Linked DNA regions of Homo sapiens: all the other regions are linked to region 2. The links come from fine-mapping of genetic effects on gene expression. A gene starts in region 2. Each other region holds a variant in brackets. All regions are shown on one strand. Distances are between the middles of the regions. Region 1 overlaps IGF1R (insulin like growth factor 1 receptor). Region 2 holds the start of PGPEP1L (pyroglutamyl-peptidase I like). Region 3 has its middle 11 kb from the start of LINC03080. Region 4 overlaps PGPEP1L (pyroglutamyl-peptidase I like).

The links.
Region 1: its variant is fine-mapped to the expression of PGPEP1L in tibial artery (GTEx, PIP above 0.99). The same link has a PIP of 0.9 or more in aorta, coronary artery and visceral fat.
Region 3: its variant is fine-mapped to the expression of PGPEP1L in coronary artery (GTEx, PIP above 0.99).
Region 4: its variant is fine-mapped to the expression of PGPEP1L in skeletal muscle (FUSION, PIP 0.95).

What each region holds. Positions count from the first base shown.
Region 1 is chr15:98,950,433-98,958,007 of GRCh38, reverse strand. IGF1R (insulin like growth factor 1 receptor) reads right to left here. Exons shown (of 21, transcript NM_000875.5): 21 at 1-947. The coding sequence ends at 566. Among named protein-coding and RNA genes, the nearest start is that of PGPEP1L, 54 kb to the left of the region's middle. The variant T/C (reference allele first, on the strand shown) is at 3,325.
Region 2 is chr15:99,003,765-99,011,339 of GRCh38, reverse strand. It overlaps PGPEP1L (pyroglutamyl-peptidase I like), which reads left to right and starts at 3,548. Exons shown (of 5, transcript NM_001167902.2): 1 at 3,548-3,981; 2 at 5,684-5,911.
Region 3 is chr15:99,442,013-99,449,587 of GRCh38, reverse strand. No RefSeq gene overlaps it. Among named protein-coding and RNA genes, the nearest start is that of LINC03080, 11 kb to the right of the region's middle. The variant G/A (reference allele first, on the strand shown) is at 3,569.
Region 4 is chr15:98,965,264-98,972,419 of GRCh38, reverse strand. It overlaps PGPEP1L (pyroglutamyl-peptidase I like), which reads left to right. Exons shown (of 5, transcript NM_001167902.2): 3 at 1,262-1,384; 4 at 2,769-2,995; 5 at 3,723-4,191. The coding sequence starts at 2,787. The coding sequence ends at 3,942. Among named protein-coding and RNA genes, the nearest start is that of PGPEP1L, 39 kb to the left of the region's middle. The variant TGA/A (reference allele first, on the strand shown) is at 1,894.

The sequences.
Region 1 (7,575 bases), 53 kb after region 2:
GTAACAGCCTTGGATGAACGATGGCCCTTTGTAAATTTCATGTCCCTAGAAAGGTGAAAGATAAAGGTAAAAATTTCCATCTCCACGTGTTTTTTTGTAATGACCCACGGTGTCAGGCGGGTGTGTACAGTGGTTGGATGGGGCCACAGGGACAGCCACTTCCTCAAACTGATAAAAAGGGCTTCCCAGCTGGACTTGTGGCAATTATTTTTCCGTTATGAAGCAGAGAGGAGAGAGAAAGGGAGAACAGGGAAGGACAGGGACAGAGTGAGGAGACTGGTTCTCAAGTGCTCTGTTGCTATTAAGTGTTGTCATTAAGGTTCTTAAAGGCCCATGTCAGTTAAGGGTTTGGGCAGGGAATAAAAAGCTGCTTGCATATTGAAAAAAGGAACATCCCAAATGTGTTTTACTGCAGAGAAGCTGTCTCCCGCGGGCAGCAAGGGCAGTTCTGAAGATCCACTGAGGTACAGGAGGCTTGTGAATGGATTGTTAAAACTCTCTCTCCCCCCCCACCCCGCTGCGCGTGCGCACACGTTACTGTTTGCACAGATTCAGGATCCAAGGATCAGCAGGTCGAAGACTGGGGCAGCGGCAAGGCCCGCTCGTTCTTGCGGCCCCCGTTCATGTGGGCGTAAGGCTGTCTCTCGTCGAAGCTGGCGCGGAGGACCAGCACCCCAGGGCCGGGGCCGTTCTCGGCCTTGTGTCCTGAGTGTCTGTCGGGCAGTGGCAGGGAGGACGAGGAGGCCGAGGGGTCCAGGGGGACGCTCTCCATGTTCTCTGGCTCCAGGTCCAGCTCCTCCGGCTCGGGCAGCTTGTTCTCCTCGCTGTAGTAGAAGGAGACCTCCCGGAAGCCAGGCTCCATCTCCTCTTTGATGCTGCTGATGATCTCCAGGAAGGAAGGCCTCATCTTGGGGTTATACTGCCAGCACATGCGCATCAGTTCAAACCTGCAGCCAAGACACACGGGAGGGGGTCCAAACCGGGAGGGCGCACATGGCCAGGAGGCTTCATGGGCCGCCTGCAGTGGTTTCCCGCATACAAGCGTACGGCGGGAGCACTGAACACAGCCCTGCTGCCCCTCTCCATCCCTGGCTTTCTGCCTGGATGGCCAAGTGGCCTTCAGAGTCTCCTGTTTTACCTCGTACGGTTCCATTCTCTTCCCCCAGAACCCAGAACCACCACGGTACAAAACCCAAACTCTCCTTTCCCAAGAAGGACTAATCCAGGTCCACACTGTCCATCGTGACAGCTGTTATCTATGGTGGCAGTGCTAAGAAACAAAAATAACCAGTTTTCTATCTGAGGCGTCTCATGCAGGCACTGCTGAAACATCCTTTCCAGAATTAGCAGGAAACCCCTGGTTTCTCACCAGGAAGGCTGATGAGTGACCGCAGCTTCCCCAACAGTGCTCTCTCTCCGGTTCCCACCTGTGCTATTTCTAAGCTTCCTCCTGGTGCAGGGCTACCCCTGGCAGACAACCAAAGGAAGAAGGCACTGTGAGGCCAGGCTTGCAACACGAAGAAATGCACACTCCGAGTCTGCTGTCTCCATCTAGCACGTGCTCGCTCCAGCCCTGCACAAGCAAGCCCCAGCCGATGAGCCAGGCTGTTCTGGACCAAACGAGAGGCCCCGTGTAGACCTGAAGCCAGATTCCAACAAGCCAGCAAGGAGAGCCCTGGGCACGAGTCCCCTCCACACGCAAGGGACAGGCAGAACAGGATGACGCTTGTGCTGTGTGTCGGTCGCATCGGCTGGGCTCCGACAGCACCTGGGCTGCAAATACCTGTGAGGCCCTCAGAGTCACATGGAGCAAAGGGAGTCCTGCCGGCTGTGGCCGGGGCTCCCCAAGAAAACAGCCGGCCACACGTGGACAAGGAAAGCCGGCTGCCCTGACCCAGGAAAGGCCCGGGCTTTGACAAGCTTCCAGAATGCAGAGACCCAGCTAAACAGACTTTTGGGGCAAAAAGCAGCTGGCTACCATCCAGGGCTGGCCATAGTTCTGAGGAGTGACCGCCAACAGCCCTCTCTTACATGAGCGTGAAACCAAAGTGCCTTCCTTTCCACGTCTGTTCTCACCAGGAAGTTATCCTCTTTATTTTAAAATTCTGGCTAAAGAGATGCTTTTCCATAAAAGTGGCCACACAGAACTCTCCACATCTAGGAAACTCAAAGCACACCCAGTGGCATCTAGCCTCCTGTCAGGGTGGCTGCTTGACCACAGACTACCTGCCCGTGTCTGGCCTTCAGGGAACATTCCAAGGGGAGGCCCCTGATGTAAGAGAAGCCACTGGGCCTGGAAGCTGGCCTGCCAAGAGAAGGGCTCCTATGGCCACCTGGCAGCTTCCTTCAGGTGGAGAAGGTGCAACCTTGAGGGAGGGTGGGCCTGGGTGTGAGGGAGAGCCATCCAGAATTCACTAGAATTCAGCGTTCTAGAGCCCGGGGGCCTGCGTCTCCACAGGGCCTAACCCGGGGCTGCCCGCCTCTACATCAGCTGCACTGGCATGGGGCCACGCTCCCTCATTTCCATGTGGGCTGCAGCTGCTTTCCAGCTACAACTACCAGCTGAGGACATTAGGACAGAGACTGTGGCCTGCAAGTCTAAAAATGTTTATTTACCACGTCGCCCTTTAAAAGAAGGAAGGGTGCAGGTTCCTGTTCTGGGGAGAAAAGAATTAGACAAAATATGAAGGCCCCCACAGTATGCTTCTTAGATTTGGAGAGTTCCATGTGGCCACTTTTATGGAAAAGTATCTCTGTAGCCAGAATTTTAAAAGTCTACCCCACGGTAGAATGCCATGTGCACGCTAGGTGCCAGGCAGCGAGGCAGTTATGTGTGTGAACTGCTGAAGTCCTCACGAGTTTGTGAAGCAGGTGCTACTGACTATAATATACCCCCATGTTACAGATGAGGGAACAGAAGCACTAAGATACTAAATAATTTGTCCAAGATTACAAAATTCATGAGGGTGGAGCTGGGATGGAGTTCTCTGCGCAACAGAATGACTACACTTTGATCACCAACGATCCTGGAAAAAGGAATTTTTCTCAACCTAAATAAGAGTAACCCTGGGGCCACCAGGAGACCCTCCCTCACCTAACTGTCCAAGGAACAGTCACAGATGTCACAGGGATGTGGTTTGCATTGATAAAAGCTGGCAGCTTGATGACAAATAAGCCTGCCTTTCCAAACTCCCCATCACTTCCTAAGAAAAATGATTGGGGTTAAAAAAATTAAAATAGGCCATAACGACATGAAATGCCTGGGCTGTGAATTCCTCTCCAGCTGACTTACCCCTGGGCAGAAGCGTAACTGGGCCAAGAGCA[T/C]GAGATGTGCTTGGCTCTGTGCCCTGTGGCCAGGGACCGAGGAGGTGCCACAGGAGAGCAGCGAGGCAGTGACATCAGCACAAACAAGCCATGTGACGCCTCTTTTAAACCATTCCAGAGTAACAACCCTTCCAGTGCTGCCCATGAAAGGAAGTCTTTTTTGCTCTGTGGGATTCAAGACCTTGTTTACTATTTCCACACACACAAAAAATCTCCATTAGACTCTAGAAGGATGTGTGAGCTGATAAAACTCATCTTTTAAAAAGCACAATTTTTTTTTTTTTTTTAACCACAGGTCAGTTCTGGGGAGGCTGGCGCCATCCTTCTCGAATGCTCTCCCCTTTGGGGGACACATACCCAGCCCTTCTCCTGGAACAGGGACAAGACTCAAATGGAATTCCTGCCCTGCTGGGAAGCAGCTTCCTGGGGGCCAGCTGTGACCCCCCCCGGAGGCTGGGTGACGGTCAGCAGGGTGAGCACACAGAGGTGCCTCCGTATTCTCACTTCACTCTTGGCCCTGATGTCCTGAACTGGACAGGCTGTGACCTGTGTGCGATGTCAGCAGGCCACGAGGCACCCGCACATTCCCACACGCTGCCGGGAATCAGCACGGCCCCAGCCCGGTGCCGACGCTCACCGGATTCCCAGAGGACCTGCGGGGCTGAATGTGTCTCTCCCTCCTGGCAGCCCTCAACAGTAAGGGTCGTCTTAGGAACCACGCCTCAGCCAGGAGCGGCTGTGGACATGGGGCCTGTGTGCCTCAGTGAGCTTACTGGGGCTAACTGAGCAGGAGCGCCCTTCCTGTCTGTCTGGGTCCCACTCAAGCACTCGATTCCCGCAGAACCAAACCAGGATTCCAGCGATGGGAAAAACTGTACTGGAAAACTACAAAAAACATCAGATTTCACTAAGTTTGTTTCAGACTCATCTATGAGTTGATAATGCTCCAGGCTAAAGTTCAGATTCCCTCCTGAATCCTGTAGACCAAAGACGTCTCTGGCAACAGTCTGGACACGTGGAGCTGTGGAAGTGTTAGCAGCAGAACAAATGGCTTCCTGGCCCAAGTCTTCCACGGCTGCGTTCACACCTCTGCCCTGGCCCTTATCCCGCAGCAGCCGGGACCTTTTACGTCACTACGTTTCCTGAAAGCCAGGGCCACTCCTGGCTCATCTGTGTGACCTCAGGGTCAGCACGCACCCAGAGGAGCTCAACAGTATCTGTGGCATAAATACCGAGATCTGGGCTGAAATAAGGCTGAGGACGGGCTTTGTCATCAATCTAAAGTACAGACCCAGCAGGGAACCACAACCCAAATCTGATGTTGTGATACCTGCTAAGTTAATTCACACTGAGTCATGGCGTTGAGACTCAGACCTCGACACCTTGTGGCTTGGGGACCACGGAGTCCTTCCTCTAAAGCCAGAACACTCGGTGACACTGAGGGGTGAGAATCTGGCTACTTCCTGATGGTGAGCTCCAGTCCACCTGCAGCCACCGAGCTCCTTCAGCCCCTAGTGTCACCAGATGGTGCCTGTTCAGATCTCAGAACCACACAACTCACACACTTTCTCACCTGGGACCCGGCAGAGGTTTCAAGGCAACTCCCAAGGGCTCAGGGACTCTCCTCTCCGGGATAAACGGAGGCCATTCTTTCATGTCTTGTAGCAACAGAACTCCCATGCTAGAACCCTCCTTTCTCAGGTAAGCTCATCAGTAAACTCAGAAGGACAACATGACACTCCCTATGAAACCAAGTTGCCTCCTTTCATTCTACTCTTTTCTTGGAAGGGAGAAAAATTTTCTCAGGAGAAAACATTTTCTTAGAAGGGAGAAAAATTCTCGATGGCAAAGCAGAAATGCCTCCTGAACTAAACATTGAATGTCAGAGTAACCGCTCTGAGTAAATTTCCTTGTCACTCTATGCTGAGAACAGGAAGTGCCCTGCGTTTCCCATGGCAGGGGCTGCGTCCCAGGCAGTTTACATTAATAGTAAAAGCCCAGTCACCTGGAGGTGGACCAAGTAAGAATCCCACAAGTCTCTTGTAGATAAACGTTTACCCGAGTCAAAGAGAAAGCACAGAACAATACCGCTCTCCCTCACCCACCCTAAACCACAGAAGCAGAACTCACACCTGCTTTCATGGGCTGTTTCTAAGCTTGCTAAAATACCACCAGTTCTAGTATTAGCCTAGATTCTAGCACTGTACCTTTATGCAGATTCAGTGGTCATCAGACCTCTTACTCCATGGCTTATATTCAGACTTGAAAGCATGATTTTTCTCATAATGGCTGGCAAGAAAACAGTGGCTGCGCTGCTCAAAGTGTGGAGCAGATGGTCACCTGTGAGGGGCAGTGTGTGTGTGTGTGTGTGTGTGTGTGTTGGTGGGGTACTGGGGGGTAGCCAGGCTCCCGGATCCCCAGTGGTCCTCTCCCCTGTGTCCTGGAGCTCACATCCCCACGTGATTGACTCTCACATGGTGTAACCTGAAGGAGAAGGTGAGAGCCTCAGTGTGACTTCTGAGGTTTGGTCAGAAAGGACGTCGTGCCTTCTGCTCAGGTCCTGGATCTTTTACTCTAGGGCACAGCAGGCAAACTATGTACCTGTGGGTAAAATCTGGCCTGCTGCCTAGTTTTCCAAGGTCTATGAGCTAAGAATGGTTTTCATGTAAATGGCTAAAAGAAATTCAAAATAAGAATATTTTGTGACAACACAGGGATGATGTGGAATTCAAATTCCAGTATTAAAAATAAAGCTGTATTGGAACACAGCCACGCTAGCTTATGTGACGCCCACAGCTGTGTTTGCTCCACAGTGGCAGAGTCCAGTAGTCACAGTCAAGGTCGTATGGGCCCACAGAGCCAAAAACATTTTTTTAGCCGGCCTTTTAGAGAAAGAGTGTGCCGAACTCTGCACTCAGAGAAGCCAGCTACACATCCTGAGACACTTGGGCAGTGCTACGGAGAGGCCCACGTAGAACAGGGCGATTCATGCAGGGCATACTACCTATGCAGCAACACCTTGGAAGTGGGTCTGCCTCCCCCAGGCAAGCCTTCAGATGACTGCAGCCCCGGCGGACAGCTGGGCTGCAACCGCGAGAAGGGCTCCAAGCCAGAGCCAGCCAGCTATGCCGCTCCTGCGTTCCTCGCCTTCAGAAACCTCTGAGAGATAATACATGTTTACTGTTGCTCTTAACTAGTAGGTTTTGGGTAGTTTGTTATACTGCGATAAAAAACTAACACAGAAGGGGAGAAGAAGAATTTCTATACTGGGCAAGAAAAGGTACTAAGTGGTCTTTCGAGTCTCTTCCAAGTTTGGATTGTGGAGTTCTGAAGAGGCCATGCTGGGAAGTTTCCTTGATGAGGGCTCCAGGAAACCCAGTGCCACTGCATCTGTAGGTGCCACCCTCAGAGAAGAGGAGCCTCCCATCACTGGCCCAGGCCCAGGGCACCAGCCGACTTTCTGGTTCTGGCCCTGCCTTGATGGGACAATGGGAGCCCCCACATGTGCTAGCTGTGCAAGGGTGATGCCTTCACTCTGGCTTTCCCTGGTATCCTTCCTGCGCCACCTTTCTGAATTCCACACGAAGTGTCCACTGCCTGGGATACACTTCAGCTGAACCTATGTTCGGAAGCAGCAGCTAATGAGCATGCCGCCCAGCCAACGTACTCCCAGAGCACAGGGGTGTGTATCCAGTCTTCCCCACCCCATGCCCTCCGCTGGCCGGCCATTTACAAGGAGCTTAGGGATTCAGTATTTGTAGCAACACTCAAAGTGCTTTGAAACAAAAATAGCACCTTGATTGTTTGATTAGGGACAATGATTTCTGAGACTATGGAATTCTAAGATGCCCCCCAAGATCGTTGCCCCTGGTGTAAATATCCCATATAATCCCCTCACTTGAGTACGGGTGGGACTTGTGAACATGAGAGGATACTTCACTCCTCTAATCAGGCTTCTCATCAATTGACTGTGAATCACTTAAAAGGGAGAGAGTATCCTGGGTAGATCTGACTTTATCAGGTAAAAAACCAGTAGAAGCAGTAGAGAGCTGTCCTCTTATCAGTCTTGAAGAAATAGGCTGCTGTTATGAGAGGGCCTATGGAGGCTGTATATGGCAAGGACTGTGAGTGGCCTTGGCCTCCAAGAGTTGAAAGCAGTCCCCAGCTGACAGGTGCCAAGAATATGGGGACCTCAGTCCTGCAAGTGCAGAACCCTGAAGGAGCCTGAAGATGTCCCTGAGCCTCAGGTGA
Region 2 (7,575 bases):
ACCATTTTTAAGAGGTCCAGTAATTTTTAAAAATCAATGATCATAAATATTATAATCGGATTGTCTATAAATAAGCTGGATCGCTAAGCCTTCCTCAAACCTACTCAGCCACTTAGCACTCACTTCTGACACGAAAGTTACCTTTGGCCCCAGTCAAGAAAAAAAGAAAAATGCCTCTTACATGTGTATACTGGAAAATAGCGGCCCCTCGAAGGCCTGGTGCATGTTTTAGTGTGGCCCCTCTTCCATTCCAAGAGGATATTAAGCTCTCTGCTGCACCCTCCATCTGGCCTCATTTGTCTACACAGGAATTTCCTCAGTGTTAAGAACACAAATGTTCCAGTCATTCCTAAGATATTTGTGAAATTTGAAAGAAAAATCCAGTATTTAAACAATAGGGGTAACAAGCTACTGGATTTTAACAAGTAGAAAACTTCCTTTTGCAACAGTTGTTACTTTGCAGTCAAGGAGCTGTAGTCCCTAAAAAAAAAAGTGATCAAGGCTTAGCAAAAGTCTGAGGGAAAAATATAAGACAGAAGAAAAATAAAGACAAATCCTTCTCCTACAAAATGTAACAGAAATATCACCTTGCGACAGAGTCTCACTCTGTCGCCCAGGCTGGAGTGCAGCATGCGATTTCGGCTCACTGCAAGCTCTGCCTCCCAGGTTCACGCCATTCTCCTCCCTCAGCCTCCCGATTAGCTGCGACTACAGGCACTACTAAAATTAGCCGGGTGTGGTGGTGCACACCTGTAATCCCAGCTACTCAGGAGGCTGAGGCACGAGAATTGCTTGAACCGGGAGGCGGAGGTTGCAGTGAACCGAGATTGCACCACTGCACTCCAGCTTGGGCCACAGAGTGAGACCCTGTCTCAAAAAAAAAAAAAAAAAAGTCTACTACATTTATTCATTTATTTTATGGCCCTTTTCAGAAATCGTGTGCTGGCTGGCCCCTGCTGGGGTACAAAGCTGCAGAGGCAGAGGTATAGAGGAGGGTGAGTTCTGAATCTGCCTTGGTAGAGTGACATTATTGGAGGATCCCTTAGTGCTTTGACAAGAAGCAATTTGGCTATGGGTTGTGTTTTATAGTAGAGCTAAGTCGCTTATCTGGAAACAGTGATGTTTGACATGGAGAAAGACTTATGTTATCATTATTTTGGAAATCACAAGTGCTTCTTGCTGATTGATTTATTTTCTCCCCACCTCCCAAAGGAATTTGACCAGTTTGATTAAATTTCATTTATGTCAAGTGTACAAAATGTGTTGTAAGAGCTGTTTGTGTCAGAGACAGTAAACAAACCCCTTTAATCTTTTTTCTTGCGAGAGCAGGAAGTCACCACTTGCCAATGAGAAATTTAAAACAAATCCCACAAAGTTTTGAGTTTAGTTCAGCACGTGAAATAGTTGAGGTCTTGGGATCTTGTAATCTTGGCAACTCCCATTTGCTGTCCCTGGTGAGAACACTTGTGTACCGTTGCTTACTTTCCGGTTCACTAAGAGGGTCGCACCTTGCCCTCTTAATCCTAGAGTCAAATCTGATTACAAACATTTTCCTCTCGGGAATCCCGCTTGTAAGGAAGATCACTGTGCTCTCTGTTAAATAAAACAGCTCCATTTAGTTGCCTTATTCGTTCTCAGGCTTACTGTATTTCATCAGCCTAAAGACTGTGTTTGACATCAATTATTAGAGACCATTTGTTTTTACAATGGAAAAAGAAATAAAAGTGCAGATGTTGAACCTCAAAATCCATACTTCTCAGAGCTATTTTCATTCCAGAAAGTAGGAATGTGCTGGGGGGTTCTTGTGTGGGGAGAGGGGAGGTGAATGAATACAAAAATAGACATATCACTGTGACTAAGTAAAATATTTTGTGTTGTTTTTTCTATTAATTTCAAAATTAGAGAAAACTTTAGAACAGAAAAAAATAAGTGAATTATGGGAAAGTGAAAACTGCAGGACACATTCCAGTTTAGTTAAAATAATAGCTCCTGTCAAATCAAAAAAAAAATGATGAAAATTTCAGCTTTGTTATCAGAAAAGTAGTATGGTTAAAGATGGGCAGTCTTTGCACTTAAGGAGTCTCCTTAAACACAAGTTCCCATTCCCAGACCTCATAGGTGAATGTTGATAGCAGAGTTGGACCCTAGCAGCAACCAACTTTACAAATGTGGGCATTTCTGGACGGGCGCGGTGGCTCACGCCTGTAATCACAGCACTTTGGGAGGCCGAGGCAGGTGGATCACGAGGTCAGGAGTTCAAGACCAGCCTGGCCAAGATGGTCAAACTCTGTCTCTACTAAAAATACAAAAAATAGCCAGGGCTGGTGGCAGGTGCCTGTAATCCCAGCTACTCCGGAGGCTGAGGGAGAGAACTGCTTGAACCTGGGAGGCGGAGGCTGCAGTGAGCCGAGATCGCGCCACTGCACTCCAGCCTGGGCAACAGAGCGAGACTACATCTGAAAAAAAAAAAAAAAGAAGAAGTGGGCATTTCTTAATGGTCCAATCTCTTCCTTTAACTGTGCAGAGGAAGCCAAGCCCCCACTGAGAGGTGACAACATGCTGGTAGGCCTCGCAGCCGTCACTCACTCTCGGCTCCTCTGCCTGGGCTCCCACTTTAACGGCACTTGAGGAGCCCTTCAGCCCGCCGCTGCACTGTGGGAGCCCCTTCCTGGGCTGGCCAAAGCCAGAGCCGGCTCCCTCAGCTTGCGGGGAGGTGTGGAGGGAGAGACGCGGGCGGGAACCGGGGCTGCACGCCGCGCTTGCGCGCCAGTGCGAGTTCCGGGTGGGCGTGGGCTCGGCGGGCCCCGCACTCCAAGCAGCCAGCCCGCCCCGCCGGCCACGGGCAGTGAGGGGCTTAGCACCTGGGCCAGCAGCTGTTAGTGCTCGACTTCTCGCGGGGCCTTAGCTGCCTCCGTGCGGGGCATGGCTCGGGACCTGCAGCCCGCCATACCTGAGCCTCCTCCCCCGCGTCATGGGCTCCTGCGCGGCCTGAGCCTCCCCCACGAGTGCCGCCCCCTGCTCCACAGGACCCAGTCCCATCGACCACCCAACGGCTGAGGAGTGCAGGCGCACTGCACAGGACTGGCAGGCAGCTCCACCTGCGGCCCTGGTGCGGGATCCACTGGGTGAAGCCAGCTGGGCTTCTGAGTCTGGAAGGGACTTGGAGAACCTTTATGTTTAACTAAGGGATTGTAAATACACCAATGGGCACTCTGTATCTAGCTCAAGGTTTGTAAACACACCAATCAGCACCCTGTGTCTAGCTCAGGGTTTGTGAATGCACCAATCGACGCTCTGTATCTAGCTACTCTGGTGGGGACTTGGAGAACCTTTGTGTCCACACTCTGTATCTAGCTAATCTAGTGGGGACGTGGAGAACTTTTGTGTCCAGCTCCAGGATTGTAAACGCACCCATCAGCACCCTGTCAAAACGGACCAATCAGCTCTCTGTAAAACAGACCAATCGGCTCTCTGTAAAATGGACCAATCAGCAGGATGTGGGTGGGGCCAGATAAGAGAATAAAAGCAGGCTGCCCCAGGTAGCAGTAGCAACTTGCTGGAGTCGCCTTCTGTGCTGTGGAAGTTTTGTTGTTTTGCTTGTTTGCAATAACCGTTGCTGCTGCTTACTGTTTGGGTCCGCACTGCCTTTATGAGCTGTAACGCTCACCGTGAAGGTCTGCAGCTTCGTTCTTAAAGCCAGCCACATCACGGACCCACCGGGAGAAACGAATAACTCCAAACACGCCACCTTAAGAGCCGTAGCACTCATGATGAAGGTCCGTAGCTTCACTCCTGAAGTCAGCGAGATCACGAATCTGCCAGAAGGAAGAAACTCCGAACACATGCGAGCATCAGAAGAAACAAACTTGGGACACGCTGCCTTTAAAAACTGTAACACTCACCGCCAGGGTCCGCGGCTTCGTTCTTGAAGTCAGTGAGACCAAGAATCCGCCGATTCTGGACACACCATGACGGAACTAGGTAAGTGATAGGAGCTAGGAGAGCTGCTCACCAGAGGAGGTAGAGACCAAGTCTACAAGTGCATCCGGGGTATATTGAGAAACCGGGTAACTTCTGTGAAATGAGGCAAAGTACAAAAATCCTCTGCATCCCACTCATGGCAAGGTGGGCCCAGCTTCTCAGGACAGGGAGTGGGAGACTAGTGGGAGCAAATGGCGCTTCCCACCTGTTGGCAGTGAAGAGGCCTGCAGCCCACACCAGGAGCTAATTAAAGGGAATTGTTCCTGGTTCAGAATCCCAGAAAGCCACCAAGGGGGGTCTAATCCGCGGGGGTGATCCCAATTAAAAGGGAGCGCTTTATATCAGGAGGACAATTCAGCAGATGGAGCCACGTGGTCCTGCTGTCACACTGAGCTCTCTAGAGGCCGCAGGGTGCTTGAGAGGCTCTGCCTGCTTCCCTGAAGGGAGCTTCTCCTCCCCAGACCTAGATGGGGACAGAGAATCATGGGTCTTCTTCCTCTTAATATACAGCTTCAGGAAAAAAGTATTTTCAGTTTAAAAAAAAGTTTAAGAATATTTTTAGAGACAGGGTCTCACTCTGTCACCCAGGGTGGAGTGCAGAGGTGCAGTTACGACTGACGGCTCAAGTGATCCTCCCGCTTCAGCCTCCCTGAGAAGCCAGGACTATGGGCATATACCACGTTTTGAAAAAAATAATTGATGCAGTCTTGCCACGTTGCCCAGGTTGATCTTGAACTCCTGGCCTCAGGCTATCCTCCTACCTTGGCCTCTCAAAATGCTGAAATTAAAGGCGTGAGCCAGTGCACCTGGCCAAAAGTTTGTTTTGTTTTTAAATAGAATTCTCCGAAAGATCAAGATATTGGAAAACAGCTTTTTCGATAGAGGAAATAGCCTCAAATGTTAGCCTTTTTCAGTTATTCTGACACATTAAAAAGAGGACTGTCTGCAGAGCCAGGTGGCATGCCACGGCTGTGGCTCACTGTCAGTGGCATGTTTAAGGAGTCCAGCACAGTGTCAAGAAAGCACTTTTCGCAGGTAGAACGCAGGGTGGTGAGCACAGAGCTAGCAAGCTTGCACAGACGCTAGCTAGGTGGCAAGCCTCTGTTCCTCAGGGCTGATGAAGCTGGGGACAGTGCCTGGGGCACAGAAAGAATCCATACAGGATCCGGTGCTGCGATCCTCGTTTCTCAAAACAGGAAACCTGAGCACAGAGGTTAACTTCCCTGAGGACCCACAGCTCCTAGGCAGCGGTGCTTGCAATCAATATTTTAAAGGCAGGCGCCATAAGATTCATCTATGGTTTTCTCTCTTTTTTTTCTGCTCACATCTCACATATTTTGTGGAATTAGTTTTCAGAGCAATCAAATTTTACCAAATCATAATGGCCAAACACAATGAGGGGCTCTGGCAGGGATTACTAAAGAGGAAAAAATAAGATCTAAGTAAACGACTTGTAGGGTAGCCCACAGTTCCTAGGACAGTACCTCTTTGAGCACCATGTGGTGTTCCGTCCCAGACATCCTTCTGTCCCAGGCAAACCGGGACAGCTGGTAGCCAAACCCTTAGCTCACCTTTGAACCATCCTGAACAACAAAGTGACCCAGACTCAAATGTCCAGAAAGTCCCTGCTGGCGCTCCAACCCGCTGTCCTGAGCTGGATCGTTCTGCTTTCAAGGGGCATTGCTTTATCACCCTCCCCTAGATCCTTGGCCTTTCGGGGCCCAGAACGCTACGGACGCCGGGCGGCCAGGAGGGGTTGGGCTCCCGCTCCACCCCGGTCCCCGGCGAGCACGCGGCCAGGCAGAGAAGGTGCCCGGAGCTCAGAGCGCGCAGAGCCCGGCCGCTGGGCCGCTGCCTGAGCCAGGGAGGCGCAGCGCGAGCTCCCACTTCGTCTTCATGGATTCCCAGCCCAGCTGCGTGGTGGTGACTGGTAAGACTACATAATTTTTTTCTCTCCTATTTGTTGCTGCTTTTAGCCTGCCCCTGGAATGCGCACTGGCCTGATCCTGGGTCTTAAATAGTTCCCTGAGGGAAAAAAAGAATGGCAACTGGTGGTGCTAATAATTCCAGATGGAAACGAACTTGCTGCTGTGCCCTATTAATAAACAATCAGGATCACAGGCATTTCTGCTTCTGTGGCTCATTCGCTTCAAGTAACTCTCGAGTGGCGGGCACGAAGGTGCCACTGGTGGCTTAGGCTCAGACCTTGCCTTTCAACCCAGCAGGGAGGAAGCTGAGGCTGGTACCTGTTTTCCCTGAGTGGGGCCCGAGGCACGTGAGGTATCCCTTGGGGGTGCAGGCTCATAGCAAGGAAGAGGGATCTATACGCCCAGAAACCACAGGGCCCTCACAAGGCTTGCAAACCCATCTACAACAGCCACCCGCAAAGGAACACACAGTCCCCACTTCCAGAGTAAGAACTTCCATTTTTCAGGGAGCTGTGAAGCACCCCCCGAGAGCCACTAGCTGGAGACCCTGAGCCCCAGAAGGTCAACTTGGAAGGAATGGTGGCTGCTCACTCCTGCAAACACCAGCACATCCAGAGTCACCCCCACCCACACTTGCCTCACCAAGTCAGCATCCCAGCTGGTCCCTGGGGGCCTGATCTTCACAAAGGTCTTTATTTTTATTAATTTTTTTTTGAGACAGAGTCTTGTTCTGTCGCTAGGCTAGAGTGCAGTGGCGTAAGCTCAGCTCACTGCAGCCTCCGCCTCCTGGGTTCAAGCGATTCTCCTGCCTCAGCCTCCCGAGTAGCTGGGACTACAGGTACGCACCACCACGCCCAGCTAATTTTTGTATTTTTAGTAGAGATGGGGTTTCACCATGTTGGCCAGGATGGTTTCGATCTCTTGACCTTGTGATCTGCCCGCCTAGGCCTCCCAAAGTGCTGGGACTACAGGCATGAGCCACTGCGCCTGGCCCTATTTTTATTTTTATATTTTTAATTTTTCTGAGACAGTCTCCCTCTGTTGTCCAGACTGGAGTGCAGTGGCTCAGTCATAACTCACTGCAGCCTCAAACTCCTGGGCTCAAGTAATCCTCCCACCTCAGCCTCTGGAGTAGCTGGGACAACAGGCACTCACCACCACACCCCCCAATTTATTTTATTTTAGTTTTTAGTAGAAACAGGGTTTTCCTGTATTCCCCAGACTGGTCTCTAACTCCCGGGCTGAAGTGATCCTCCCGCCTTGGCCTCCCAAAATGCAGGGATTACAGGCATGAGCCATCATGTCCAGCCTTCATTTTTAGTTAGACACATTTGGCCGGTTTTAAGTTTTCTGAATTGTGTTGGATGAAGAGGCAGGGTTTCCTGGATGAATGGGAAATTGAAAGTTGTGTCGCTTAATCTTTTCAGACTATAATTCTAACTCCTATCGACCTTCAGAGAAAAAGTTCTTTGGGAAACCTTTTATCTCCCTTGCTCTTATTTGTGTTATTTTGGTTCTGGAGATTGAATGGTTCAAATTACTCTTGAATTCCTAAGGAAACTGTACTCTAATGCATGCAATGCTTGTCATGAATGAAATATGAACATTGAAGCACCATCTTAGAATCACACTGACCCCTGCCTTTGTCTTGTCAGCCTGTGGTTTG
Region 3 (7,575 bases), 440 kb before region 2:
GTTGTTGTACTTTTTCTTATTGATTGGAAGAGCTCGTTGTATATTAAAGAAAATGGAAATTATTGTATATTACAAGTGGTTTTCCCTGGCACTTCTTTTGTCTTTTGTCTGAGTTGTGGCGGTGGCCATTATTATTGTTATTATAGGACATGAAGCGGTTTCTGTGAATGATGTTAAATGTATCTGGTTTGATGCTTCTGGTTGCGTGTTATGTTTTAAAAAGCTTTTTCCACTTTGATATATATTTTTTTAAATTCACGTTTTCTTCAAGTTCTTCAAGTCCAAGCCTGAGCTCCAGGACTAGACAATTTGGGTTCAAATCCTGGCTCTCCTGATTCTTGGGTGACTCCATGCCTCACTTTTCTATTCTGTAAAGTGGGGATAAGGAAACCTGCCTCATAGCATCAGGTTGGGTGTGTGCTTCTCTAGGGGAGGCCTCCTCAAATGCTCAACTGAAGAAGGTTAATCACGCCTGTAATCCCAGCACTCTGGGAGGCCGAGGCGGGTGGATCACCTGAAGTCAGGAATTCGAGACCAGCCTGGCTAACAAAGTGAAACCCTATCTCTACTAAAAATACAAAAAAAGAATTAGCTGGGCGTGGTGCTGCACACAGCTACTTGGGAGGCAGAGGCAGAAGAATCACTTGAACCTGAGAGGCGGAGGTTGCAGTGAGCCGAGATCGCACCATTGCCCTCCAGCCTGGGCGACAGAGCAAGACTCTGTCTCAAAAAACAAAAAAACAGGTTAACTTGAAAGATTCCCTGATGCCCCACTGGAACCGGCACCTGGATCAGACGGCCTTTCACAATTATTTCCAGGATCTCCCGGCTCGGAGAACAAGAGGCTTTCCCTGCACCTGGACACATGACTGCCTCCTTCACTGCTGCTTCTCCACCTAGACGGGGGAACTCCCCAGGAAAGGGGTTCAGGTTCTGCCTTGGAGGTTGGCAAACCCTGGAGGAATTGTGGGGTCCCTGGGAGACTGTTATGGGCTGAACTGCGTCCTTTTTCAAAGTTCTTGTTGAAGTCATAACTCCCTGTACTTCCAAATGTCACCATATTTGGAGACAGGTAATTAAATTAAAATGAGGTCATTGGGGGTTACGAATCCAGCCTGACTTGGTGTGCTTAGAAGAAGAGGACATTTGGACACAAAGGAAAGATAATGTGAGGACACAGGAAGAAGGTGGCGGTCTACAGAGCAAAGTGAGGGGCCTCAGAAGAAACCAAGCCTGCCAACATCTCTATCTCAAACTTCCAGCTGCCAGAATCCTAAGAAAACATGCTTCTGTTGTTTAAGCGACCGGGTCTGTGGTGTGTTGTGGTGTGTTGTGGCGTGTTGTTAGGGCAGCCAGAGGAGACTAGCAGAGACACCGTCCATGAGGCCTCCCTGCCTCTGCTTCTCTAGGCCCCAAGCTGGGTGGGGAGTGTGGATTATCTGGGTGTCTTTTACCCCTTATCTGATGCTGCAGACCATGACCCAGGTGCAGACAACTGTTCTCTCCGTTCTCTCTTTCTCCCCTCCCACAGTCACCCCTCTCCCCCCACCGAATAATATGAAAGACAATATGTGGGGCTTTGGGTCTGGACGAAGATCAAAGCCAAAGGACAGGTGCTCAGGCAGAGTGTGAGGAGGCTTCCTTCACTGGGCGAGGATAGAGACATCCACGTGGACCTCCCGAAAGCCCTGGCAGACCCCCAGAGGCCTGCACGCAGCTGCAGCAAAAACAGGTGTGGGGGCCGCAGGAAGCTGGCAGCCTCCATAGGCCCCGCGCTGGGGAGTGCAGCACAGCGGGTGGACGGAGGTTAACGTGGGGGAAGAGTGATGGGGAAAGCGCGTGGCACCTGGCTCTAAGATTGCGGGTCCTCCCTGCAGGCTGGCCCGGAGATTGTGGGCGGGGCCTCCTCGGGGCAGTGGGCGTGTCCAGGCACTGCGCTAACCCCGCCCCCCGCCCCCGTGCCTCCCCTTCCTCTGTCTCTGCAAGCATGCCAGCTTGACCCCAGAGCAATGGGATGTACAGGGAGGGGCAGGAAAATCCATCTCTGGGGGAGATGGATTGCAATTTAGAGGCTTCTCCTGAGCTTCAGGGACGAGGAGCCGCAGGTCAGAGTGGAGGGTAAACCTGCTTGGAGACCTGATGCCTCCCTTCACTGTCCCGCGGGCCCAGAGGAAGGGTTTTCATTTAGGGCCAGGGAGGGCAAGGGCCTCAGAGCCTTCCACAAAAAATGAGGACCCTGCCTCTCTAAGACGCCCGGACCCCTGCATGGTAGGGAATCCCCGGCCCCAATTCCAGGGCTGAGCTGGGCTGGGGGCAGGGTGGTTGGGGTTGCAACTCTCCTCCTGCGATCTGGTCCTGAGGCCCAGACAGGCCCGAGTGCTGTCCCCCACTTGGCTCTGCCCGCTGGCGAGGCTGCGTCTGCTAATGAGCTGCCAGCTGCTGAGTGGCTCTCAGCAGCTGCCCTGTCCCCGCCCAGGTGTGTGCGCCCCAGGCGCGCAGGCAGCGGGGAAGGCCGAGCGCCACTTGTAAAAGGTAATAACCCATTGCCGCAGGATAATCGCCCCTCCAGACAGGCAGACTTGATCTCATTAGCGATCCTGCAGAAAGTCTGGAGAGGACTCCTGCCCCCGCTGGGTAAGGGCGGCACTCAGGACGGAGAAGGTGCACCATCTGCTTCAGGTGCGAATGGGACCAAGCTCCAAGTTTCCTGAGAATATGGAGGCAAAGGAGAGACAGGGCAAAGAGAGAGGAGGAGACTCACACTCCCAGTGCTCCCTGTGTGCGTGTCCCCGCCTGGCTGGTGCCTTGGCTATGCAAACCCCGCGTGAGCAAGCTGGACTGCCCTTCCTCTGTGGACCAGACGAACCCTCCTCTGCTGGGAAGAGCTCTCGTCCAGGCCATCGCTTCACCCTGGCTCTTTCCTCTGAGCTCCTGTAGTGCTGTTGCCTGCACCACTGGGGCTGAAGGAAAGAATCGCCAACACCGCACTGCACTGGGGATATCTCTAAACTTCAGGTTCCATGATTTGCCCTGGGTCATATGTGGCCAGTGTCTGCTGGTTTGCTGGATTCCCCTCTCCTAATCCCTTTCTGCTATTCTAGGGATATTAACCTTTTTCTGGAGCATGGACACTTTTTGAGAACCTGATGGAAGCTATGGACCTCTTTCTAGAAAAATGTACATAAAATATAAAATGTCTGCAATGTCAGGGCGTCTGTGGATTCGCTGAAGTCCATTCAGGGACTCTTCAAGCCAGTGGTTTCTAAACTTCAATGTGCATCAGAATCATCAGGGGCTTGTCAAAAATACAGATGTTCCAGCTTTACCAGCTGGTCTGGGGTGACAGGGAATCTGCATTTTGGCCTGAAGTTGTTTAGATGCTTGTTCTAGACCCGTACTTCAAGAAACACTGCTCCGTGGCCAAGCGCCACGGCTCACACCTGTAATCCTGGCACTTTGGGAGGCCGAGGTGGGGGGATCACCTGAGGTTCAAGACCAGCCTGGCCAACATGGCAAAAACCCATCTCTGGTAAAAAAATACAAAAAAAATAGCCAGGCTTGATGGTGC[G/A]CTCCCGTAATCCCAGCTACTTGGGAAGCTGAGGCAGGAGAATCACTTGAACCCAAGAGGCAGAGGTTGCAGTGAGCCGAGATGGTGCCACCGCACTCCAGCCTGCATGACGGAGCAAGACGCCATCACAAAACAAAACAAAACAACACAAAACAACAAGAGCAACAACCAGAAACACTGCTCCGGCCGTCTGTGGAGCCCAAGTGAAGACCTCGTTCAAAATCATCTCCAGATGTACAGGTCTTGATGTCCCAAAGGAAACTGCAAGCTCCCTTACAGAAGGGACCGAATCTTAAATCTCTGTACCCAGCCCCAGTGCCCCAAGACCTCATCCATAAGTACTCATTGTTTGCCAAAACTCCTTAACGTTCCCCAAAGAGGACTCTGGGGAAAATCACAAACCAATTGATGTGGGCAGACTCTTTCTTCTTGTAACCCCAATGGGGCCAAACAATGTTGCCTTGTTGTGATGTGATGTGATGAGATGAGATTCCATCCCCTACTCTCAATTTTTCCACCATTGGCGGCACTTAGAAGGGTCTTTGCAAAGGCAAAAAGAATTCCCAGGGCTCATGGCTTTCCTGCCCGGCTGCACTAGCTGTGTGTCAGCTACCAGTTCAGTCAGGGGGACGGTGTGTGCTGGCGTTATTATGCCTCGGTGTTTGCTAGTTTGAATCTGGAATTCTAATCTGATTGACTAAGTAACTTTTACTCTAATTAGAATAGTAGGGTTTGTTCTTAATCTGCAACCATTTAATCTTCCGTCTCATTAATTGCACAAAGGTCTTTATGAATATGTAGATTGGGAAGGAAATAAAAGATTATTTGACCTTGAAGAAACACATATAAAATAGGTATACACTCTCAACCTCCTGTTCCCTTTTATTATGCAGATGTGAAAACTGGTAAGGCTCCAAATCAGGCTACTGTCGGTTATCGACAATCTTGCAGCCAATTAGGATGCAGCATTCTGATGAGCCATACAAGTTTAATAATTAGTATAGTATTTACATGTGAGCTGCTTGCTGAGAATTTGCATGTAAATAAAAATGTGCCTATCAAAACCAGTCAGCAGCAGCCCACTGATGAAAAATGTCAAAAAGGTCCAAAGTAAAACAGAAAAATGCTGTGAAGGAAGGGGCCATATGTCTCCAGCCTCAAGTTGAGTCCTCATTTGAAGGGTAAATGGCCTTCTGAGTATACCTTGTGTCTTGCCTTTTAGAGATATGGGTGATTTGTTCTCTGAAAAGTTTGGAACATAATGTCAGACAAGCTGACTGGCTGGTTAAAATTCTGACCCTACCACCCACCAGTTGGGAACCTCTCTGAGTCTCAATTTCCTCATCCGTAAAACGGGGAAAACCGCTGGGCATGGTAGCTCATGCTTGTAATCCCAGCACTTGGGGAGGTCGAGGCAGGTGGGTCACTTGAGGTCAGCAGTTCGAGACCAGCCTGGCCAACATGGTGAAACCGTGTCTCTACTAAAAACACAAAAATTAGCCAGGCCTGGTGGCAGGTGCCTGTAATCCCAGCTACTTGGGAGGCTGAGGCAGGATAATCACTTGAACCTGGGAAGTGGTGGTTGCAGTGAGCCAAGACAGAGCCACTGTACTCCAGCCTGGATGACAGAGTGAGACTCTGTCTCAAAAAAAAAAAACAAAAAAAAACAAAAACGGCAGGGGGAAACCCCACCTTTCTTACAGACCTGTGTGGCTTAAGTTAAATAACATTGAACATGTTATTTCCTGGCACAAAAAGACTGCCCACAAAATGTGCATTTATTTATGTGCCTATTTCCTTTCTTCCTTCTGACTATATACATGGAAGACTAGAAAGTATTTTCTCTGCAGCTGAATTGACCCATAGGGAGAAACTTGTTCTTGTCTCCAAGGAGAATGCTTGGAGGGAATAATGGCTCTCTATTTAGCAAACCACTGGCTTTTCTTGTGCCAAGGAGGGTTTATAAGTCAGAGCGAGGGAGACAGAAGTTCGTGGTTTGCTAGGGTGGCACCTGGCGTGATTGTCAATCACCCTAATTTCACATTCAGACTGCCCAGTGTGAACCATGACCGAAACAGTCACGTGTGTCAGAGCTGAGCTGCCCAGGACCTCCAGCAAGGTCTTGAGAGGCCGCGTGGAGGAGAGGAGGGGTAGGCTGGGCAGCTGTTTGGGAAAGAGCGGGCACGGCTCCTGGCTGGGCGCAGTGGCTCACACCTGCAATCCCAGCACTTTGGGAGACCGAGCCGGGTGGATCACCTGAGGTCAGTAGTTCGAGACCAGCTTGACCAACATGGCAAAACCCCATCTCTATTAAAAATACAAAAAATAAAAATTAGCCAGGCATGGTGGTGGGTGCCTGTAATCCCAGCTACTCAGGAGGCTGAGGCAGGAGAATCATTTGAACCCAGGAGGCGGAGATTGCAGTGAGCTGAGATCGCACCACTGCACTCCAGCCTGGGCAACATAGTGAGACTCCGTTTCAGGAAAAGACAAAACAAAACAAACAAACAGAAAAAAATGGGCACAGCTCCTGAGGAATTGCTATGCTCCTGCCCTGTGCTGGACCACGTCTCTCCTGGCTCCCCAAACAGTACTCTACCCCTTTTATACTAACCTGTTGTGGAATTAGGTCTCTCTGCAGGATATAAGGATTGCTGAGGGCAGCCTCAGGGCAGGTGCATGGAAAGAAGGTGGAGCCACCCACGGGAGCCCCGCACTTCCCTCACTCCAGGCGCTAGTGTTTAGCCAGTACTCCCAGTGATGGCTGCGCTGGTTATGAGGACCCTGCCATCTTTCCAGACTATGGCCCAGTACCCACTGCTGTGCCCCCATGGTTGGCTGACCTAGCCTTTCTCCAGAGCCCCCAGGGGACCCAGCATCTCGAAGGTTAACAGCTTCACCCCACCCTGAAGTGGGCTCCAGGGTCCAGCACCAGCCCATCCATTGTCATGTTTTCTGATTGGGTGACTGCTCTCCAACACCAGTACATGTGGTGATATCACGTCTTTGGTTACCTATGTCTGCACCGAGCTCAAAATTCATCTTTGCCGTAACATTTGCAATGGCAATCCTGTCTTTAAGGAGACTCAGCCTCATCACCCTTCAAGGGGAAACCCCGTATGCTCTTTTCCAGCGTGGTCCCGTGAGTATTTCCGTGAATGCTGCGAAGGGGAGAGTTAGCCACCGAAGCACCCACTCTCGGCTCAATGATTTTGTACCAGGTGCCTGGGGTGTTGGGGCTGGCAGGGAGAGGGCACGGCTTGGGAGGGGAGGGTTTTCCTGGCTAGCGCGGGGCGTGATGTTTGGCTCCTGGCCTTTGACATAGTTGACTAATCCTTTCCACTGCCAGAAGCCTGCAAGGAATGGCATGTGTGGAGAAGATGGGGTGGGGGTGGAGTGTTCTGAAGCAGAAGAAGGCAATCACATGACTATTATTGCTTTTAATCTTTACATGTGGAGCAAATGAGAGCTGAGAAATTTTAAGAGTTAATCAGCAGTTTTCAGATGACATAGCTCACATTCTTTTTTGTATTCAAACGCCAGCCAGAGAACTCTGGCAAAAAGATCAAGTCCATAGATGCTTGAGTGGTGGAAAAAATAGTGACACAGTTTTTCCATTGCAAATCAAAAAGATATGATCTTATGTTAGTACAGGGAAGTGTTTATGAGCAGTGGCATTAAAGGGAGCAAAACAAAAGTCGGTGTATATATACCAATTAAAAGTGTGTACAAACAGCTCTAAGCACGTCAACAAAGCTCAGATGCGATCACAAAGCTTTGCCTCTGGTATAGCATTGGGCTCTCTTTTGAATGCAAAGTTGAGTTTTAAATTGTTCTGGTAAACATTAATCAGCAATCTGGACCAACTGTTCCAGGAGGAGGGTGGCATTCCCAGGGGCTATCCAAGTGTTTCATGGATGTCTGGTGCCAGGTCCTTTCTCTGAGCCCCAGCACAGGTGCTGAGACTACATCCCCCACTGCATGTGGTGACCCACCTAAAGGCAACT
Region 4 (7,156 bases), 39 kb after region 2:
AGTAGAATGTTTTTATTCCATGCTATTTATTTATTTATTTATTTATTTATTTATTTATTTATTTTTGAGACGGAGTTTTGCTCTTGTTGCCCAGGCTGGAGTGCGATGGCACGATCTCAGTTCACTGCAACCTCTGCCTCCCAGGTTCAAGTGATTCTCCTGCCTTAGCATCCCAAGTAGCTGGGATTACAGGCATTTGCCACCACATCTGGCTAATTTTTGTATTTTTAGTAGAGATGGGGTTTTGCCATGTTAGTCATGCTGGTGTCGAACTCCTGACCTCAAGTGATCCACTCACCTCGGCCTCCCAAAGTGCTGGGATTACAGGTGTGAACCACCATGCCTGGCCCATGCTATTTATTTTTAATGTATCTCTAACAGGTTTTTCTTTTGTGATTACCATGAGGCTTATAAAAAAATTGGATAGTTATAATAAGTTATTTTTAAATGATAACAACTGAACATGGATTGCAAAGAAAAGTATCAAAAACAAACTACAATTTAACACCAACCTTCACCCACATTTTTGACTTTTTAGTGTTTCAGTTTTATCTTTTTATGTTGCCTATCTCTCAACCAACTGTAGTAATTATTTTTTATAGTTTTGTCTTTTAGTCTCACACTTAAGACGTACATGATTCACTTAACACCATTACCATATTAGAGTATTCTGAATGTGTTTTCTTACTTGTGCCAGTGAGTTTAATACCTTCAGAAGTTTTCTTGTTACATGTTAGTATCTGTTTCTTTCAAGTTGAACCCTTTAGATTTGTAAGACAGGTCTGGCATTGATTTCCTCAGCTTTTGTTTGGGAAAGTCTTTATTTCTTCTTCATGTTTGAAGGATAGCTTTGCTGGGTACAGTATTGTTGTTGGTGGGTTTTTTTTCCTTCACACTTTGGATTTTTCTTTTCTTTTCTTTTTTTGGAAACAGAGTCTAGCTCTGTCACCCAGGCTGGAGCGCAGTGGTACTATTTCGGCTCACTGCAACCTCCACCTCCCAGGTTCAAGTGATTCTCCTGCCTCAGCCTCCCAAGTAGCTGGGATTACAGACAGGTGCTGCTGTGTGCATTTGCCTCTCTGGTAGGAACTGTGGCTCTCTTCTTGGCCCCTTGCCACTTTGTGAGCTCCTTGAGGGCAAAGTCCAGGCTGCGGAAGACCCCTGGAAGTAGACCCCAAGGATTGGGTTTTCAGGGACTCTTGGTGCCCACCCCCCCCCCCCCCCCATCAACTGAGGCAAGTCCACCTGCCGCTTTCCTCAGGAGCTCTCCAAGCTGGGCCTGGGGAATGAAACAGTGGTGCAGCTGCGGACTCTGGAGCTGCCTGTAGATTACAGGGAGGCTAAGCGGAGGGTCACCGGAATCTGGGAAGATCATCAGCCGCAAGTAAGTGATGGCCAGAGGCAGTGGGGCATGGGACTGGCGATGTGGAGCTGGAGCCTCTGAACCCCCGGGTCCTGGTTCTAGGGTTGATGGTTGAGGGGCACCCCGTCCCCAGGCCCCACCAGTCATGCAAGGTCCCAGCTGATTGTGTAAGGTTCTGGGTCTGTTTGTAAAAGTTTAAGCCAAAATATGGATTAGATCTTAATAGAAAATCTGGAGAGAAAGGAGGAGGAAAAGAAATGGAAGTATTATTCCCAGCCAGGACTCAAAAATAGTTTCCACCTAAGGGAGAGGCCCTTGGGTTGGGCCCCACACATACCCATGAGGGGCAGGTAGGTTTGAAGGTGGACGTGAGGCAAGGACCTCTGTGCCCAGGGAGCGACTGGGAGGGTGGCCAGCCTAGGGGAGGCCCATCTTCATAGCACGAGCCCATTTTATCTGGACATAATTACTGTATAAAAAACAGATACAACCCCACCCCCCCAAAAAAAACCCCAAACAAGGACCAGATG[TGA/A]TGAGGTTAATAAAACATACACTATCAAGCCATTCAGACAATGCCCCAGATGTTTTGATAACATACTTGGGCAGCTATTTTTCAAAAAGGAAAAATAATCAGCTTGAATAAATTCTAAGAAGATTTCACTGGATGGCCACTAACTTCCTTTATTAAAGTTTCATTTAAAAAAAGATGCAGGAGGCGGGCACGGTGGCTCCCACCTATAATCCCAGCACTTTGGGAGGCCGAGGCAGGCGGATCACTTGAGGTCAGGAGTTTGAGACCAGCCTGGCCAACATGGTGAAATCCCATCTCTACTACAAATACAAAAATTAGCTGGGCGTGGTGCACCTGTAGTCCCCGCTACTCGGGAGGCTGAGGCAGGATAATCACTTGAACCCGGGAGGCAGAGGTTGCAGGGAGCTGAGATGGTGCCATTGCACTCCAGCCTGGGTGATACAGCCAGACTCTGTCTCATAAAAATAAATAAATACATAAATAAAATATAAAATAAAAAGATTCAGGATTCCACCAAAACACGAAGACTCTGCTGTGGTAGCCTCACCACTTACTAGCTTGCCTCTCCTCCCTCCAACCCTCCCCCCACAAAAAGAGAATACATTACCCTGTAAGAATAATTTGAAGTAAAAAGCATTTAAATGTAAATGCAGCATGAGTTTTTATTCAGCTAAAAGAATCCAGCTGTTTTTCTTTCCAGCCATATTAATTAGGAGACACTGGTGGGGGATCCTGGGGTTTCCCAGTGGATTTGGGGTTTGAGATGTTTTGCACAGAGCCGGGCTCTCAAAAGGAGTGGCCCCTTCTGCACATTTGGTGAGCAGGGTGGGCCTCGTTTTCCTGGGTTCTCTCTGCTGTTACCCGTTCACACAGCTCGTCGTGCATGTGGGCATGGACACCGCCGCCAAGGCGATCATTCTGGAACAGTCTGGCAAGAACCAAGGCTACCGGGACGCCGACATCCGCAGCTTCTGGCCCGAGGGCGGCGTGTGCCTACCTGGCAGCCCAGACGTGCTGGAGTCAGGGGTCTGCATGAAGGCAGTCTGCAAGCGCGTAGCTGTGGAGGGTGTCGACGTGATCTTTTCCCGAGATGCAGGCAGGTATGCTCTGTGGGTGTCAGGACTCTGAGCAGGTAGGAGAGAAGCAATGGCCGTCAGCGTCCCCCCGACCTCCAAGAAGCCATCCTGTATCGTCCAGCTGGCCACTTGGCCATGCGGTGCCGCCCCCAGATTGCCCCTCTTTGCTGTGTGCAGGCCAGCACAGTTGCTCACACCTTGCCTGAGGTCTCGTTTGTGAGACCTGCCTGTGGAAACACGGTCTTTGGTGTGTTGATCTAGGAGAAGAGATGGGAAGGCAGACTTCAAGAGCCACTAACATTTCGTGAATGTTTTCTGATTTTGATTTTTGGGGTGACCGAAGTTGTGAGTTAACTGTGTTGATGTAGCCCCAGATAAAGATTGATTTACCTTTGTTTCTCCAAACTCCGATCCCCAGTAGGTGGTTTTTCCCCTTTCCCCAGTGAATGAATGAGTAAGTGACTCAACGAAGACATGAATGAGAGGGATTCACTGGGATGCAGGTGCTGTGGAATATCTGACCCCTTTCTGCCTTGGCCACTTGCCGGTCATGAGGCCATGAGGCCAAGAGCCAGCTCTCCCCAGCTCATCCTGGCACCATGTTCTTTCTGAGGTGAAACAACACAAGTCTCCCTTGGGTGGCAGTGCTCCCTCCTCAGGCTTTGTGGGTGTTGCATTGCCACTTCTGCGTATGTTTCACTGAGGTTAGAGGCTGGTCCGAGAATTAATGTGGCATTTCCTGTGGTTGCAGATACGTCTGTGATTATACCTATTACCTGTCTCTGCATCATGGAAAGGGCTGCGCGGCACTCATCCATGTCCCTCCACTATCGCGCGGGCTCCCGGCCAGCCTGCTGGGAAGAGCCTTGAGAGTCATCATCCAGGAAATGCTGGAAGAGGTGGGAAAGCCCAAGCACAGAGCCCAGTTCGAAGAAAACTCAACCATGGTCCTTCCAGCCAAAGGGAACTGACCGGGGGATTGCTCCTCTAGAGAAAATTGAATGTTTCAATCCTGTATGTAGCACTCAACTGTGCATTGAGAAACTTTTTCAAAAATTGCTTGTAAGACAAAGAGGGTGGAAAACTCTGAATTAGCCCAACAAAATCACAAAGGGTTATTTTATTGTCAGGAGAAAGAACACTCTGAAAGGTGGACATTTCACAGGGGATGAACTAGCTTCAGTTATGGTTTTCATGACAATAAAATGAAATCCGAGTCATCTGTTTTCTTCCAAAAATCTACACAGTGGGTCTGTGTGATCCTGCGCAGACTGTGGGGACCACAGACCTGTTTTGGAGATGCTTACAGAAGCACAGAGACAGCCGCTGCTCCAGGGACCCCATTCCTGGCCTTTGAGCTTGTGTGTCCAGGTCCTGGGTAGCCTCGAAGCCACCGAGGCTCTACTGTATGATTTCTCTGTCTCTGTGTTTGCCCCTTTTACTACTCATTTTAATAATTTCAAGCATACAGTTCAGTAGTATACAGTACATTTCCTTGTTGTACAACCATCACCACCATCCATCTCCAGAACTTTCTCCTCATCCCAAACTGAAACTCTGTACCTATTAACTCCCTATTCCTTCTTCCTCCCAGCACTTGGTGCTCACCACTCCACCCTCCATCCCTATGAATCTGACTGTAGGTAGCTCATATGAGGGAGTCATGCGGCGCTGGTCCTTCTACATCTGGCGTATTATTTCAGCCTCATGTCCTCCAGGTTCATCCATGTTGTAGCATGGGACAGGATTTCATTCTGTTGAAGGCTGAATAATATTCCAGTGTATGTATGGACCACATTTCATCCATTCAGCTGTAGATGAACACTTACGTTACTTGCTCCTTTTGGTTCTTGCAAATCATGCTGCTACAAACACTGGCGTGCAAATATGTATCCGAGTCCTTGCTTTCAGGTCAATCTCCAGAGGTGAATTCCTGGATTCAATGCTAATTCTGTGTTTAATTTTTTAAGGAACTGCCATTTTGTTTTGCACAGGGGCTGCACCATTTTACAGTCACACTGGTAGTGTTTGGTTTGAAGGCGCAGGTTAATAGCCGGGCTTAGCTTCTCTCCATGGTGTCTTCCCTTTTTAAAAGCAGAATCTCCTTTCTGTTTCATGTTTTGTTTTGCTTTTATGACACAGCACCGGGTCTTGTGCCAAGCTTCTCCCAGCAAGATTCTACCTGTTCAGTGTTTTCTAGGGGCAGATTTCCTTTGGGAGTCCCATTGGTAACATCGCTTTTTTTTTTTTTTTTGGAGGAAGTGAGTGAAGGTAGGTGAGCTCTGGGAAATTTCTTGTTACGTTGGTGTGCTTACAACTACCATTTTTCACTTGACTACATTTAAAAAATTCATCAGTTAGTGTTTGGATTCATTCACTATTAAGAAAAGCATTTGCAGCTTCCTAACAAAGGAACCAGGCCAGGCGCAGTGGCTCACACCTATAATCCCAGCACTTTGGGAGGCTGAGGTGGGCGGATCACTTGAGGCCAGGAGTTCAAGACCAGCCTGACCAACATGTGAAACCCAGTCTCTACTACAATTACAAAAACATTAGCCGGGTGTGGTGGTGGGTGCCTATAATCCCAGCTACTTGGGAGGCCGAGGCAGGGGAATCGCTTGAACCCAGGAGGCGGAGGTTGCAGTGAGCCGAGATTGCACTATTGCACTCCAGCCTGGTCAATAAGAACAAAACTGTGTCTCAAAAAAAAAAAAAAAAACAAACAAAAACCCACAAGAAAACCAAAGGAAGCAGTCAAGGCCGCCAGCACGCTTTTTGCATTTGGAGTAGCCTTTAGGGGACTCCCTTTGCAAGTACACCTGGATCATTTGCTAGAAAACAGATCAAAGCCCACATATTGGGGGATGGGGGGAGGTGGTGCTGGGCGGTGTGCACAGGTCTGGCTGCATGGTTGCTAATGTGGAGATCTGTCTCTGCTATGGGCAATTCTGTCCCAGGACACTGGCAAGCAAGGGGCCCCCAGGACTGGGCTCCAGTGTTATATTTCAGACTGCCTGGCAGCATGCCATAACATTTTTTAAATTTTTAGATATTATCCAGTTGGGAGGCCCAGAGCTCCCTCTTCAAGAACTTCCCCATCATTTCCCCCCGCTGTGGCCCCTGAAGTTCTCCAGGGAGAACCCCAGAAGTCTCATTCACACCTGGGCTGTGTACTTCACCCAGCATCCCTTGTCAGTATGCACAGAGCCTGCTTAGTTCTGGCAGTGCTGAAGCCAGATTGAGAACCACAGCAGAAAAGGCTGAGAGGCTGAGTCCTGAGTTGGTAGCTGGTGGGGAGGTGGGGGGGCGGGGGAGGGGTCTTGAGCATGCCTGTATGTTTGCTCATCTGTAAGAGTAATTAAAATCCTTCCTTTGCAGGGTGATTGTGAACATCTGGTGAGAGAATGGATGTGAAGGTCTTTTTAGCAACATTAGAACACTACAAAAATCACACATCTGAGTGAGTATGGACTCATACCTGGACTTGGGGGGTAAATGCAGAAATAGCTCTTGAGGGCTTGCAGTCTTAAGAAATGGCCTGGAGGGGAAAGGTTCTAATGCTTCTGAAGACCCAGCACCTTCATCCTTAGATATTGCTGCTCCTTCTGGCTGGGCAGGCCAAGTGCAGACTGCACTGTGGCAACCTGGAAGGGCAGCATCTACCTGACCAGGGAAGGAGGAGGCCCTGTTGGGCTTTCCAGCCTCAGAATTGAGACCTCCTCATCATCAGTCACCTAATGAAGATCCCCTGAGTGCCAGGCACTCGGTGACAACACTGAGCAGTAACCCTGAAGCAATGCCAAGCTTGAGTACCCTTTTTGAGACAGAGTCCTACTCTGTCACCCAGGCTGCAGTACAGTGGCACAATCTTGGCTCACTGCAGCTTCTGCCTCCTGAGTTCAAGAGATTCTCCTGCCTCACCCTCCCAAGTAGCTGGGATTACAGGCACCCGCCACCATGTCCCACTAATTTTTTGTATTTTTAGTAGAGATGGGGTTTTACCATGTTAGCCAGGCTGGTCTTGAACTCCTGACCTCATGTGATCCACCCACCTCAGCCTCCCAAAGTGCTGGGATTACATGCGTGAGCCACCGCACCCCAGCTGAGAGTCCCCTTTCAGAAAGGCCTTTGCTTTTAGGTGCAAACACTTCTGAGGCTCAACAGGTCTGAAGTAACCATGGTCTT